2 separate regions of the Homo sapiens genome follow, and region 2 is linked to region 1. A link means that fine-mapping ties the variant in region 1 to the expression of a gene that starts in the linked region. Tissue or cell type: hypothalamus. Region 1 holds a variant in brackets; the other region holds the start of a gene. All regions are shown on one strand. Distances are from middle to middle.

Region 1 (8,101 bases):
AACTGATCTCTGTCCCAAGGACCCTCTACCCCACCCAATTCATAATCATCTCAGATTAGAAAAGGCAGAATTCCTTCCCATTCTCAAATCAGCATTTGGGTTAGGGGCCCCTAAGTTACGTGAGCATGTTAGAAATGTGACCCCAGGCCTCAAGAGAGAGGCTCTGCCACATGAGAGGAGATAGGAATCATGACTGAAAGGGGATTAGCACAGAACAGAGAAAACTGATTTGATAGACAAATCAAATAGAAAATATAAAAAAAATCAGCCAAACTCCCAGAGGTCCTGCATTTCCTCTCACGTCTTTGCCCAGCAACAAGGTCCAAGACCCTGTGGGACCAAAGGGTCAGGGGTTAGTCCAGAGGGAACAAGAAAGGAGAGGGGATTAAGGAACATCCTGGGCAGTGAGCTGGGAAAAGGGAAGAACTCAGACCTGGAAAAAATGTGGTTGAAGTTAAAAAAGAAAACCAGTTGTGGAGAGGCAAAACTTTCCTTCAGGCCAAGTCCTATTTGTTTTTGGAGTCAGCTCACCAGCACAGGGCCTAGCATTTAGAAGATTATGAATAAATATTTGATAATCTGACGGCAGAAGCCATGGGGAAAGGGTTCTGGGTGGGAGAAACAGGATCCTGGGGGTTTCTGCCAGGCAGTTTTTGGCTCTAATCCAGGAGTGAATTCTACCTCTCTCCCAGCTGTTTGCTCCAGACACTCAGGAGCTGGGGGCTGAGCAGCACTGTACTCCAGCTGTCTCTGAGAGAAGGATCAGCTGAGCTCATCTCAGCCTGGGCTCAGGATTTCCACCGCAAAGGTCAGGGGAACTCCAGCAGATCTGGGAGGTCTGGGAGGGAGGAGCTGATCTCCCAGTAAGAAAAGGGGCATTTTAACTCCAGCCTTGGCCTGGGGGCTCAGAAGACCTGGGGACGGAGAGGAAATGCGGCCACTGGGGGAGCCTGCCACCCCGTCCCAGCCTGGCCCCACTTACGGAACTGAATGAATTATCAATACTCTCGGTGCTGGAGGAGAGCTCCTGGGAAAGGGCCAGAGGGCAAAGGGAGAAGGAGGGGGTGGGAAGGGAGGGGAGAGAGACAAAGGTAAAGAATTTAGCTCCAACTTGGATCGTAACTGCTTCTCTAGTGAAGTTCTACCTTTCTGCTTTAATAAAAGAAAGTCAACTCAGAAATGCTACTTGCCCAGATGCTTGACCACTTGTAGGAGATGCTGGAAGGGCAGCTCAGACTTTAAGGTCAGAAGGACTGAAGAGACAAAGCAGCCTCTGCTTTTCACTTTATTCACTTCTATTCTCAACTGAATGGATCTTCCTTCTAGGCCAAAGCTCTAAAGCTGGGTCCCTAGGGCAGTAACTGCACTGCCAAGCTTCCCTGCTCTTTTTTTTTACCCACTCACATGCTCTCAACCAAATCCTTCTCCATGGGGACCACCACAGGACTGAACTTAATAAGCTGCATGGCTCCCATACTGGAAACCCCATGTTCCTCCAGCTTTTTGGAAACCTCAGGGAGGAAGAAAAGCTAAACTTTCAGTGGCAGGTATACCTCTTCTCTAATTAGCCTCATTATCACCCTGGGAAGCTGAATCCCAACCTTGAACCTCTGTGACAAAGAGCATCCTAGACCAATAAGCCCAAAATCTCTGGGCTGGATGCTGATGGGAGTGAAGGATAAATCAATCTCCTATCTACCAAACCTCCTTAGGCTTCCTATCAGGCTATCCACATGACAATCAATATACTACAATTTTTGATATAAGTTGGGGAGTTAGCTATATCCATCTAGAAAGCTGACTAGCTGGATAGCAGCTGTCCTAGTCCCAGCCCAGAGGATTTATCTAAACATCACCCCATTGCTGTGTCATATGTGTCCGTGTGCAAAAACAGGGGAAAGAGATGGTGTCAAACTCTCACTCAGCAGCTCTGAGGCAACACTCATGCACAGGGCTCATCCTGGGTTCTGTCCAACATGGTCTACCAGGGCAGGGAACAGAGCAGCACGTGTGCACAAATCTAGGTTGTGGGGGACGTTGAGGTCGGGGTGGGGGAGGTTAGACTTAAAAGACAAAGTCCTAAGAGCTCCCAGGGCAGGAGGGCAGTGGTGAGTTTCTACTCTGAAATCTGCTGAGTAGATTCAAGCATCCACTTGAACTCAATTCCATGGTTTCAGTTCTATTCTAGCTGGAGGTCCTATAGTCAGGTCCTTCCTTGAAGAATCTGGGGACTGGAGCACTTTGAGGGAGAAGCCACATTTGGAAACATGCCCCTAAGGCAACAACTCTTCCATTTTGGGTAGAAGGTGGTGGGAGAATTAAGGCAGTGAGGATGTCAGAGTCTATTATGAATTAGTGGTTCTATTTCTACCTATGAGCTGGTTGGAGAAGGAACAGCAGGCAAGATATTGGCTCCCTGAGCAACGCTCCAGCTGATTCTGTCACAGACAGGTCCTGTCTGACTCATTGACAGCCCTGGGGGAAGGGAGGTATATCATGACCTGCTCCTCTCCTACTCCCTGGGCTTGAGTCACTCACACTGAGTCAGCTCCGGGGAGTAAAGATGAAGCAAGAAGCTGACATCACACCATATCAAGCTAGAAGGCCTACTGGGGCTTCCAGTGTGACATGCGGCAGATTTCTCTGTACAAAGGTTGCAGTCCTGAAAAGACAAAGCTAATCTACTAACAGTGTCATCATATCGGGGAGGGTGTGATACCTAAATCACTCTCTCCTTTTAGCTCCCCCATTCTATACCAAAATATTTGCCATTTGGTTACAAATGGGAGGACAAACTGCCTGGGCAGAGTTCCCCGACTAGGCTGATAAAATGGCTTTGAAGCGGCAGGCTTTGAGGAGCAGTGGTGGAAAATGTGAAAAATCAGCACAAAGCCTTCTGACTGTGGGAGAGAGTGTAAAGGATTCCTCATAGTAAGAAAGAGAACACTGTGAGAGCTGAGCAGAGAACAACTCTGCAGGGAGACCATGGGCAGGAAGAGAACTGTACATGCTGCCCCTGAGCCTCTTCTTTGAGGCCCGACCTCATCCTTGGGAGCCCCTCTACTGGTGGTAGGAGCATAGTATTAAACTCAGAACCTAAAAGAAAAGCAAGAGACTGGGAGCAGAGTGTTAGGGTCTACCTAGAGATTCTCCTAGAGTATCTCTGCTTAGGTCTTAGATAATTATGTGCCTCATTTTAGTAAGCTGTATACTTCCTGCTTATGGCAGAAAACAACTTTTTCAAGAGAGTCACAAACTAAACAGTTCCATAGATACTGGGGTTTTCATTATTACTTCACATGTTCCTAGAGGGAAGGATAACATTTTATCCCCCGTCCTCCACAGCACAGCTCACGGCTTTGGACATTGTACAAAGTCAATAACTACATGTTGAGTGAATGAATGTTACATGAAAGGGAAGAAGGATGAGTAAAAGGAAAACCAATTCCTTTGGTATTTAGGGGACAAAAGCCTTGACAGACGCATCCTCAAAATGCCAAAGGGGCTGGGTCTAGTCACTCATGCCTGTAATCCCAGTGACTTGGGAGGCTGAGGCGAGAGGATGACTTGAAGCCAGGAGTTTGAGACTAGCTTGGGCAATAGAGCACGACCTCATCTTTACAAAAAAATTTTTTAAAAATTAGCCAGGTGTGGTGGTACATAGCTGTAGCCCCAGGTACTTGGGAGGCTAAGATGGGAGGATTGCTTGAGCCCAGGAGTTAAAGGCTACAGTGAGCTATGACTGTGCCACTGCACGCCAGCCTGGGCAACAGAGCAAGACCCTGTTGCAAGAAAAAGGGCGGACGGACAGACAGACGGGTGGGCGGAAGGAAGGAAGGAAGGAAGGAAGGAAGGACGGATGGAAGGAAAAGGGCTGGGAGAGACCCCTGTGCTGACGACTCTAATGCTTAGAAACCTAGTGATATTCATGTTTCTGTCTCTTTCTTGCTCTCCCATTTTCTGTGGAGCCATAATGAATTCAGGTATTTCATTCTGTCAGTATCAGATAACGCAGGAGTGCCTGGGAACATAGTATCTCCTTCCTCTCCTGGATCTAGTGACCCAAGATAAGGAGTCAGGTTGGAAGAACGGCAGCTACAGAACCCACCCTAAATGAT[G/A]TAAGTATTCACCTAATACCTGCCTCTCAGTGCCATCCATAATCTTATCCTGGAGTGGGAGTTAGATGTAAGGAAAGAGGGACCAAGGATCAGCAGAGTAAGAAAAGCCCTGAGGCCTCAGCTTTTCTGGTCCTAAGATGAGCACTACAAAATGGATAAAGAGAAAAGCCAAGCCTGACAAGAGGCACCAAGGAATTCACTTCCAGCTGCTCACCCTCTGCTACAGGTTTGACTCCAAGATGAGACAGCTATCCAACCCTTCATGTTCCACTAGAATCTGGATGACTCTTCTTGTTCTGCAGCAACTTCTCTTCATGACCCAGGGCTCTGCTGCCAAGCTCAACCAGATATGAAAACGGTTCATTCTAGTTCTGACAACAGTTTTGGCTTTGCCTGTGCATGGATGTGGAAGCTCAGATGGCCATAGCCTGGGCCGTTCTTCCCCACATGGCTTCTGACAGCTGGGGACCTTGGGAAGTAGATATTGAGAAATAACCAAGGTAGTTCAGCTGAATGATTATGAGCACCAGCTGGAGATTTGAGTCCTGGTCTGACATTCACTAGTTGAGGGACCTTGGGCAAAACATCTAATCTTTCTAAGCCTCAGTTTCCTTGCTGGCAAAATAATACCTGTCTCTCAGCATGGTTGTGAGGATTAAATGTAAAGTACTTGGCAAGATGCCTGGCACATAAGTGCTGAATAAATGTTAGCACTTTTAGCTTTACCATTATTAAACTATCCTAACAAAATTCCAAATTTCCAGAGAGCAGGCTCTATAGTCTCCCTCCCTCTTCCTTTTCTCTAGTCACTCTGACTTCCCTCTATTTGAAAGAAGTCCCATTGTATCAAAAACGTGGGTGGGTTATATGCCCCACAGAGGCAGATGCCAAGACCATAGCTATCCGCATTTTTCAAAAAGTGCAAATTCCTCCTTTTTTTCTCCCTCTTTTCTAGGCTGGGTTGGAAGCCAGGATGGGAGCCTGGCCAATGGTGAGTCAGAGGGGAGGACTGGAGCACCATTGTCTGGCTGGGACACCAGGTCACTGACACTTGGTAGTCCACTGGGCAGCTTTCCCTGCTATCTGTCCAGATGTGGAGTGAAGAGTGGGTATAACCTATTCATGTGGCCACCTCTTCCCTGCTCTATATCCTAAGTTATACCTCCAACTGCTGCTGTAGCTTCCTCTTCTTCCCAGCCTCCAGGTCCTTGACTAGGCACTATATTTACTCTATACTAAGAGTGCTTTCTCTTCCCTTTGTGCTTCTCCCAAATGGTATGGGAAAGATACCAGCAAGGCACTCTTCCCCCTAAGGAAAGGCAGGCAATGAAGGCATTCTCCAGATGCCTCAGTGATAAGAAATAAACCTTACACTTATGTCAACAAAAGGTAGGATCTTCAGAGGGTAGTGAAAAGGGATTAGATTATGAGGAGGAGTGGCCAGGAGAATGAAGCCGATGTTCTAACATCTCCCCTACCCCAGCACACAGAAAGACAATAGTACCTTTTCCTTTCCCACAGATGCTGCTCTGAGAGGCTCTGGTAGCTATCTCAAGTCTCAGGTCAGGGTGTGGAGGGCTTCTGCCACAGTTCTCATTAACATAGTAGATGTTAATGGAATGGCAGTTTATTTATTTATTTATTTATTTAGAGACGGAGTCTCACTCTGTCGCCCAAGCTGGAGTGCAGTGGCGCGATCTCTGGTCACTGCAACCTCTGCCTCCCAGGTTCAAGTGATTCTCCTGTCTCAGCCTCCCAAGTAGCTGGGATTACACGCGCCCACCACCACGCCTGGCTAATTTTTGTATTTTTAGTAGAGATGGGATTTTGCCATGTTGGCCAGGCTGGTCTCAAACTCCTGACCTCGTGATCTGCCTGCCTCAGCCTCCCAAAGTGCTGGGATTACAAGCGTGAGCCACCGCGCCTGGCCAGTGCAGTTTAATAAAAATGATTTGGGACACAGTCAGGAGCGTCAGCCTTGCCATGACCTATATGACCTGAGGCAACTCACTTTATCTCTCTGGGTCTGAGTTCTTCCTTTGTAAACTAAGGCAGGCAAAATACATGAATTCTAAGGCCTTTCCATTCTAACATTCCATGCTTTTATCAGTGAAATGAAACAGGGAGGACAGAAAGAACAGCGTAACCCTGTGTGTATATAGGAGGCATCCTGTCTCCATGCAGCCCTCTACCACCTTTTGTCTCTGGCCCTCCCCAGAATTTTACCTCATCCTCATTCTCCACTTTAGGGTTGCTGGCTGTTCGTTTCAGGTTGCTGCTGAGACTTATGCTGGCAGTGGCATCTGACTTAGAGCGCTGGTGAGTCCTTTTGGAGGGAGACAGCCCTGTGTCAGGGGCCGGGCTCAAGGAGGGCAGCTCCCTCTTCCTGTGAGCTGGCTTTAGCTCATCTGAGAGGATCAGCTTCCGTAGCTTGGTCCCACGGGAGTGTCGTTGAGTGGAAATGTGCATGTCTGAAGAATAGGCCCCAAGCAACAGGGCACACTGGAGGGAAAAGTTAATGCTCTGGCGGCAACGGTGGACTATGTAGGGCTTAATGGCATCACCCACGTCCTCATCCATGTGGATGTACATGTTAAGCAACTGGGGCAGATAGAAGTCCACGTCCTCGTTGCGAAAGCAGAAGAGCCGGTTGCCAATGTAGGCTTGTACTCCAGGCTCCTTGGAGTTATACAGGTATGAAATGGCCATGGAGATGTCAAACAGTTTTGACTCAAACAGCCTCAGCAGCCAAGACTGTTTAGCTGAGTTGTTCTGCCGCCGTCTTCTTGCTCCTTTGGCTGTGCCTGAGGCCACAGCGGCCCCCATCTCATCTTCCTCCTCCCTGATCTGGGCAGGTGGATCATCTAGGCAACGGATCTCACTGTCCACACCATCCCCATTGACCAACTCCAGTGGGGTGCCTCTGCTAGAGACTGCCACGCCTCCATGCAAAAGCTTGACTTTCTCCAACACCTCCTGGCAGGCCTTCTGGGCCACCTCAGGGTCAATCACTGATAGTTCCCCGACCCCCTCCGTGATGACACTTAGCAGGGACCCCCCATTATTCCCTGGTGGGCCAGAAGTGGGCTCAGAAGTTGGCTTCAAGGGGGCAGGCTCCACTACTGTATCTCCCATGGCCACAGCCAGACTTCGAGCTTCCAAGCTACAGGAAGAGGGAGGGAGAAAAGAACAGAAAGGGAGACACATACACACATTGGTTAGTGGTGCCATCCTCAGATCTTCCCTTTGCTATGACACCTTCCCAGGCACCTCCTCTTTTTGTCTTCCTGGACTCCTTCAAAATCAGATAAGAAGACATATCCTAGGAAGCTTTCCTGACTACCTCCACTTCTGATTACATTACTCGTCATTCCTCCTGTAGTTACTCAGCTTAGCCTCTGTTCTTAGCTTATATATGTGAAATGTTGTTTTGTATATGTTGTATTTATATAGATTTACAAATTCTTTTTGTTGTTGTTGTTGTTGTTGTTGTTGAGACGGAGTCTCGCTCTGTCACCCAGGCTGGAGTGCAGTGGCGCAATCTCAGCTCACTGTAAGTTCCGCCTCCCGGGTTCACACCATTCTCCTGCCTCAGCCTCCCAAGTAGCTGGGACTATAGGCGCCCACCACAACGTCCAGCTAATTTTGTTTTGTATTTTTAGTAGACACACGGTTTCACCATGTTAGCCAGGATGGTCTCCATCTCCCAACCTCATGATCCACCCACCTCGGCCTCCCAAAGTGCTGGGATTACAGGCGTGAGCCACTGCACCTGGCCTACATTTACAAATTCTTTTTTTTTTTTTTTTTTGAGACAAGGTCTTGCTCTGTTACCCAGGCTGAAGTGCAGTTGAACAATCTGGGCTCATTGCAACCTTGACCTCCTGGGCTCAAGCAAGCCTCCCACCTCAGCCTCCCAAGTAGCTGGGACCACAGGTGCACACCACCATGCCTGGCTTATTTTTAAATTTTTAATCTTATTA
Region 2 (8,101 bases), 120 kb before region 1:
ACCACTGCACTCCAGCCCGGGCGACAGAGCCACATTCTGTCTCAAAAAAAAAAAAAAAAAAAAAAAAAGACAGAGAGAGATAATTCTTGTCAACTGCTTAGCACAGTGTTTAGTAAGTGCATAGTAAATGTGTAGTAGGTGGTAACTACTACATGGCATTCAGTATTCAGATCCTTCATAATTTAGCCTCTCCCTGTCCTTCTAGTCACACCTCCTGCGACATCACTACTCCAGCATCTCTCCCCTAACACCCAATTCTCTGTCATGCCTCTATGCCTTTCTTTCTCCTTAGAATCCCTTTCCTTTCTTTTCTAATTTTATGGGAGAGTGGAGTCTTCCTGAACACCCATTCCTCTCTTTCCAGGCACAATTCATATAACTATGGAGATGATGTCTTCTGTAGTCTCTGGAATAGTTCCAATCTCAAATATTGTCTGTTGTAAAGACTGTTCTCATTTTTTATTCTGAAAATATGGTTATCAAACCATAGCACTTACACAAACTTTATGATGGCACCTATTACATTGTATTCTAATGATTCACATGTCTGTTCCCCTCATTAGTCTGTGATCTTTTTGAGGGCAGGGGCTTAATCTTTTCCTTTTTTTAATTAAAAAAAATTGTTTTGGAGACATGGTTTTGCTCTGTCGCCCAGGCTGGAGAGTAGTGGTGCAATTTTAGCTTACTGCAGCCTTGACCTCCTGGGCTCAAGTGATCCACCCATCTCAGTTTCCTTAGTAGCTGTGACTACAGGTGCGCACCACCACGCTCAGCGAATTTTTGTATTTTTTGTAGAGATAGGATTTTTGCCATGTTGCCCAGGCTAGTCTTGAACCCCTGGGCTCAAGCAATCTGCCTGCCTCAGCTCCCAAAGTGTTGGGATTACAGGAGTGAGCCATCCTGCCTGATGATGGGCTTAATGGTCATCTGTGTATTCCAGGAACTCTAATAGTGCCTGGGACGTAGCTTGGGCTAAATAATGTTAATTGAGTGAATTAATTAATGAATGATTAATTGAATAAATAGCCCATCCTCTTATTGTAGAATCCTTTCCTTGCTCTTGCCAGTCCCCATCACTTCATTCTAATCTTAGAAACTTTTCTGGCCGGGCGCAGTAGCTCATACCTGTAATCCCAGCACTTAGGGAGGCCGAGGCAGGCAGATCACGAGGTCAAGAGATCGAGACCATCCTGGCTAACACAGTGAAACCCTGTCTCTACTAAAGATACAAAAAATTAGCCGGACGTGGTGGTTTGTGCCTGTAATCCCAGCTACTTGGGAGGCTGATGCAGGAGAATCGCTTGAACCCGGGAGGCGGAAGTTGCAGCGAGCCAAGATCGCGCCACTGCACTCTAGCCTGGGCGACAGAGGGAGACTCTGTCTCAAAAAAAAAACAATAATAAAATAAATAAATAAATAAAATAAAGAAACTGTTCTAAGATATGAATGACACTTTAATAAAGGTGTGGGTGTGTACTCACATGTACTGAAGTCTGTACCTGTGGCCCTACTTTGAGGTCATCAGATTGTACCCCCTTTCCCAAAGTATGTATTGGTGAACTCCCTTTTCTGTTTCCTTGGGGCACTAAGCCAACATGTCCTGCTCTGCCCCTGTTTCCACACCCTGCCACGTCACCACAGTTCTACTATGCCAGGAATGTTACCGGGGAGGAGTGGTTCCATGACTCAGAGGACACCCCAGGTACTGAGTGGGAGTGGGGGCGCCCCAGGGACTGAGTGGGAGTTGGTGAAATTAAAAATAAAAATAGTACTTGATGAAAATAAAAATTAAAAATATAAAAAATTAGCTGGGCGTGGTGGTGCATGCCTGTAGTCCCAGCTACTCGGGAGGCTGAGGCAGGAGAATCGCTTGAACCCGGGAGGTGGAGGTTGCAGTAAGCCAAGCGCCACTGCACTCCAGCCTGGGTGACAGAGCCAGACTCTGTCTCAAAAATAAAATAAAATGGAATTCACAGATTAGCTCACAGGGAGAAGATTCCTCTGTTTGACTGCGTTGGTCATTCTGGGATTTATTAGTCTGTTTCCAATTTTAAAATCAGAAACAGCTTTACATCAACACCAGCCGATTTTTTTTTTTTTTTTTTTTTTTTTTTTGAGACGGAGTCTCGCTCTGTCGCCCAGGCTGCAGTGCAGTGGCACGATCTCGGCTCAGTGCAAGCTCCGCCTCCCAGGTTCATGCCATTCTCCTGCCTCAGCCTCCCGAGTAGCTGGGGCTACTACAGGCGCCGGCCAACTCACCCGGCTAATTTTTTGTATTTTTAGTAAAGACGGGGTTTCACTGTGTTAGCCAGGATGGTCTCGATCTCCTGACCTCGTGATCCGCCCGCCTCGGCCTCCCAAAGTGCTGGGATTACAGGCGTGAGCCACCGCGTCCGGCTACACTATCCGATTTCTAAAGTAACTCAGGAAATGGTAGCAATCCTATGCCTTTTCGGAAAACAAGGATAATTTATTCAACAAATATTTATTTATTGAATACCTATGAGCCAAATCCTGTGCTCAGTGTGCCCCTCACTAGTTCCTGTCCTGTTTAGTTGAGTGGAGGGTATAGGTACAGGGAATTATAAAATACTTCAACACAACAAAATTCCACTGCTGTGGAATTACAAACAAGATTTTGTCTACTTTCGGTGCCCAAAGGAAGACGAATAATCCAGCAGGTGGCAGCAGGGAAACAATTATCTTAGATCTTCATAAGGGAGGAGTAGAAGGCTGCAGTAAATGCATGGGGATTTTTTTTTTTTTTTTTTTTTGAGTTGGAGTTTCGCTCTTGTTGCCCAGGCTGGAGTGCAAAGGCGCCATCTCGGCTCACCGAAACGTCTGCCTCCCAGGTTCAATCAATTCTCCTGCCTCAGCCTCCGGCGTAGCGAGTAGCTGGGATTACAGGAATGCTCCACTACGCCTGGGTAATTTTGTATTTTTAGTAGAGACGGCGTTTCTCCATGTTGGTCAGGCTGGTCTTGAACTCCCGACCTCAGGTGATCCGCCCGCCTCGGCCTCCCAAAGTGCTGGGCTTACAGGCGTGAGCCACTGCGCCCGGCCTTTTTTTTTTTTTTTTTGAGACTGAGTTTCGCTCTCGTTGCCCAGGCTGGAGTGCAATGGCGCGATCTTGGCTCACTGCAACCTCTGCCTCCTGGGTTCAAGCGATTCTCCTGCCTCAGCCTCCCGAGTAGCAGGGATTACAGGCACCCGCCACCACGCCCAGCTAATTTTTTGTATTTTTAGTAGAGACGCGGTTTCACTATGTTGGCCAGGCTTGTCTCGTACTCCTGAGCTCAGATGATCCACCTACCTCGGCCTCCCAAAGTGCTGGAATTTCAGGCGTGAGCCACGGCGCCCGGCCTGCATGGGGATATTCTATGGATGTTCGGGTCCTAGGTTACTTTATGAGGACCCACAAGACATCTGGAAAGAGGATAACCAGGTCATTCTGGGGGTTACAAAACCTGTTTTTTTTGTTTGTTTGTTTTGTTTTGTTTTGAGACAGTTTCGCTCTGTCGTCCAGGCTAGAGTGCAGTGGCGCGATCTCCGCTCACTGCAAGCTCCGCCTCCCAGGTTCATGCCATTCTCCTGCCCCAGGCTCCCGAGTAGCCTGGGACTACAGGCGCCCGCCACCACGCCCGGCTAATTTTTTGTATTTTTAGTAGAGACGGGGTTTCACCGTGTTAGCCAGGATGGTCTCGATCTCCTGGCCTCGTGATCCACCCGCCTCGGCCTCCCAGAGTGCTGGGATTACAGGCGTGAGCCACCGCGCCCGGCCACAAAACCTGTTTTAATGGAGTTATTTCATGGGCCATGAGTTTGAGAGGATCTATCTGACCGACTCTTACCCCGAATGTTTTACCATTCCTCTTTATTTATTCATTCCACAGATAATTATGGAGCCCCTACTATGTACGAAGTCACTGGAGGAGCTGGAGATACAAGAGTGAACCAAACACAGTCCTTGCTCCCCAGAAGTTTTACAGTCTGCTCAGAGAGACTGGTCTTCCCACCAGGGTTCATAGCCTACGGGGTACTTTGTTAAAAACGAGCAGTTACTACGAAGACTACAATGGGAGAAATTTTTCTGTGTATCTCCATGCCCTTTGGAGCACAGATAATTGACAGTTGGAGGCTAAAGGGGTTGGGTCGCGGGAAGGTTGTGATAAGTCCCTGATAGCCTCCCGTGCCCTTTTTTGACAGGTCTTCACTGATTCATGCATCAAATATTTACTGAACTCCGTCACTGTGCAGTGCCTAACTTTGTGCTTGAGGCAAACAAAACACAGATCTATTTCGAATGCCATTCCGAGGAAGGTAAGACATGCACGCACGTTTAATCAAATAGTAAACAAGAGTAGTAAAACAGGAAAAAGACTAAGAAGAGTTCTTGGTGGTATTAAATGTTTTGTGATATTCGACACCTTAACGTCTCTGACTTGACACCAGTACTCCCGCAGAGAGTTCTTTCCTGGGTTAGGAATTTCAGAGGACTTGGCGGACCGACTCTTGTCCCGAGTTCAGATCACTCGACCCAGTCCTAGCAAAGAACTGAACCTAAGAGGACCTGCCGAGCCACCGTAGGGACTGTCGGCCAACCCGCGCGCGCACATCTTCCACCCGTGGACTCGTCAGGGCGTGAGGACCCACCTCACGTGACCATTAGCAGCCTCCCGATTGGTTTTGCTCCTTTTTTCTCCCCAATGAGTGGGCTGATGCCCCGAGAAGGTCGGGCGCATGCGCAGTGCTCGGATTTTTTGCTTGGCTACCCGGAGTGAAGCGGCCGGGTTGGGCGATTAACAGGCCGTGGTTAGGAAGGACGGAGAAGGGGCGTTCGCTCCTTTGGGACTTTTCATGCCTCGTTTTTTTTTCAGATGTGGCTTGGTCTGGGCGCAAGGTCCCAGCAGCCAGCTTAAGCTTACTCTTCTGTGAAAGGGGAAAGTATCCCCTGTGGAAAGCGGTTAAACTTGTGGAGGGGGTGCGGGACGTGAGTTCTTCCCCATGCCAGGCGAATGGTGTGGCCTTGAGCTGGTCCAGGAGCCGGCTCGACGTGTCTGAGGGAGGCCCCGGAGGGGGCGGGGAGGTGGCCCACAGAACGCGGGTTCTGTAAAGAGACGTTGGGAAGATTCGATTCCGAGAAGAGGAAGAACCGGATTGAAAGAGAGCCAGGCCGCTGAGGGGGAGGGGGCTGCTAAGATGGCGTCGGCCTCCTCCGGGCCGTCGTCTTCGGTCGGTTTTTCATCCTTTGATCCCGCGGTCCCTTCCTGTACCTTGTCCTCAGGTAAGCCCGGCAGGGCGTGGGTAGGGAGCTGGTGAGGAATATGCGATGGGAGGAAGAGCGAGACCTAAGAGGGTACCTGTAGCTGGGAATGTCCTACGTGTTACCGGTAAGTGGGCGCGAGCTGGGCTTTCAAATAGGGATTTATGAGCGGGCAGGAGTTTGAGGAAAGGATAAGTTTGATTAAGAAGTTGTCGAAAACTTTGGTTGTCTTTGAGGAGGACGGATGGAGATTGAAGGTGGGGGTAGGGTGGCCCGGCGCGGTGGCTCACGCCTGTAATCTCAGCACTTTGGGAGGCCTTGGCGGGCGGATCATTTGAGGTCAGAAGTTCGAGACGAGCCTGGCCAACATAGAGAAATCTCGTCCCTACTAAAAATACAAAAATTATCCGGACAGTAGTGGCGTGCATCTGTAATCCCAGCTACTTGGGAGGCTGAGGCAGGATAATCCCTTGAGCCTGGGAGGCAGAGCTTGCGGTGAGCCGAGATTGGGCCACTGCTCTCCAGTCTGGGCGAGAGAGTGAGACCCTGTCTCAAAAAAAAAAAAAAAGAAGTTGCGGTAGGAAACAAGAGAAACGGAAGGGAGTAGAGAAACTAAGAAAGTAAATGGAGGCCTAAGAAGTAGAGAGAACTACTTAGTGTGAGAGGCAGGTGGAATCTAAGTTGATTGTGGGCTAATTGGATGAAAATGTTGAAGAGAAGCCATGGGACTTAAAAGATATCGAAAAGTTATTGGACGCTTTCGATTTCTGGAGAGGTAGGGAATCGTGAATTTTGTTGGGTGGGCGGGAGTTGTTGAAGCCATCTTTTCCCTCAGATACTCCCCCCTAATGTGTCACCCCTTCTCACTTCGCACCCCCACCCTTAGGGCCGCACAGGCACACAGACACACATACATACTTTCTCAGACTAATTCCTTTGGTGATTCCCAACTCTAAACTGCCCAACTTTGGGAAGGAATGGAAATTTTGAAGAGAGTCTAAGGAATGTAGGAAATTAAGGTCAAAGACCTTAAAAACAGATGGGAAAGATGGAATGGAGTCTTGAATTGCAGTAGAGACTGCGAGAAGTGATGTTTTGGAAATTAGGCCTGAGAAGAAGAAAGATGGGTGGGGGGGTGACTGTAAGTGTTGTGGGGGAGTATTGCATAATAGAAAAATGGACTGGAAGAATGCTTACGCTGTATCAGGAGATTGGAATTTGGAGAATGGAGCCAGGTTAATGTAGAGAGCTCAGCGTATTAATAGTTAAAAACGAATGAAGATTGAGGGAGGGCTGAGGAGGCTCACAAGAAAAGCAGTAGATTGTGTGTAGGGGAGAAAGTGTGTGTATGTGTGTCGGGTGGGGGGGCGGGAGGTGAGTCAGAAACTGAGCGCTTCCATCAGAAGTGTCTGGTGTTTCACAGTAACTGCTGCTTCTACACTGGAATAGACGCTGCCAGATGTTGGATGCTTTGCTTGAGATTTTGGTATTTCCTCAGGCCTGGTGTTGCGTTTTTGCTGTTTAGAATTTGCTGAATAGGGTTCCTTCCACCTTTCACATTCCAGCTCAGATGCTGAAATATCTAGTCACACATATCTTCTTAATAAGCTGCAGTTTTATTTATTTTTAATAAATCTCTATTTTTAGTTTGTTGAGAGGGGATTTTTTACCTTTCCTATAAAAGTATTAGGGGACCAGAACAACTCATGCTGCATTATAAGCATGAAATAGGATAAAGTAAAAGTGACAGGGTATTTATTTATTTATTTATTTATTTATTTATTTTTGAGACGGAGTCTCGCTCTGTCGCCCAGGCTGGAGTGCAGTGGGGCCATCTCGGCTCACTGCAAGCTCTGCCTCCCGGGTTCACGCCATTCTTTTGCCTCAGCCTCCCGAGTAGCTGGGACTACAGGCGCCCACCACCACGCCTGGCTAATTTTGTTTTTTGTATTTTTAGTAGAGACGGGGTTTCACCGTGTTAGCCAGGATGGTCTCGATCTCCTGACCCTGTGATCCGCCCGCCTTGGCTTCCCAAAGTGCTGGGATTATAGGCGTGAGCCACCGTGCCCCACCTGGGTTTTTATTTTTAATAGAGTAGCTCCTTAATTTGAAACCTGCTTCCCCTCTAATCCCCAACCCAGAAAGAAGAAGGGTTGTGTATGGTCCATAAACAAACTTCTCAACTATTAAGTCAGGTGTTTGCTTTGTACTCTTTGGTATTTTTGTAGGTCTTTATGTTTTCTGTCAGATCCTCTCACTAACAGTTAATAATACAGATTGTATAAATGTTTTTGTGGTTTTTTTTTTGAGACAGAGTATCATTCTGTCACCCAGGCTGGAGTGCAGTGGTGCCATCTTGGCTTACTGCAACCTCTGCCTCCCAGCTTCGAATGAGTCTCCTGACTCAGTCTCCCAAGTAGCTGGGAATACAGGCATGTGCCATCATGCCTGGCTATTTTATTTTTTTGTGTTTTTAGTAGTGATGGGGTTTCATCATGTCAGCCAGACTAGTCTTGAACTCCTGACCTCAAGTAATCCGCCCACTTCGGCCTCCAAAAATGCTGGGATTACAGGCATATCGCAAGGTCAGGAGTTCGAGACCAGCCTGGCCAACATGGTGAAACCCCATCTCTACTAAAAAATACAAAAAAATTAGCCAGGCATGTTGGCGCAGGCCTGTAATCCCAGCTACTTAGGAGGCTGAGTCAGGAGAATTGCTTGAACCCGGGAGGCAGAGGTTGCAGTGAGCCGAGATCACACCACTGCACTCCAGTCTGGGTGACAGAGCAAGACTCTGTCTCAAAACAAAAAAAAGGGGGCAAAAAGTGGCTAAATTTC

The links. PIP is the estimated chance that this variant, and not a neighbour inherited with it, causes the effect.
Region 2: PIP5K1A starts here. The variant in region 1 is fine-mapped to the expression of PIP5K1A in hypothalamus (GTEx, PIP above 0.99). The same link has a PIP of 0.9 or more in cerebellar hemisphere and whole blood.

What each region holds. Positions count from the first base shown.
Region 1 is chr1:151,309,229-151,317,329 of GRCh38, forward strand. PI4KB (phosphatidylinositol 4-kinase beta) reads right to left here. Exons shown (of 12, transcript NM_001369623.2): 2 at 6,345-7,281; 3 at 983-1,027. The coding sequence starts at 7,253. Among named protein-coding and RNA genes, the nearest start is that of PI4KB, 14 kb to the right of the region's middle. RefSeq lists an enhancer at 2,325-2,619. The variant G/A (reference allele first, on the strand shown) is at 4,119.
Region 2 is chr1:151,193,798-151,201,898 of GRCh38, forward strand. It overlaps PIP5K1A (phosphatidylinositol-4-phosphate 5-kinase type 1 alpha), which reads left to right and starts at 4,755. Exons shown (of 16, transcript NM_001135638.2): 1 at 4,755-5,284. The coding sequence starts at 5,200. LOC124904419 (a long non-coding RNA gene) reads right to left here and starts at 4,728. Exons shown (of 2, transcript XR_007066620.1): 1 at 4,654-4,728; 2 at 4,310-4,543. RefSeq lists enhancers at 4,853-5,052, 5,153-5,232.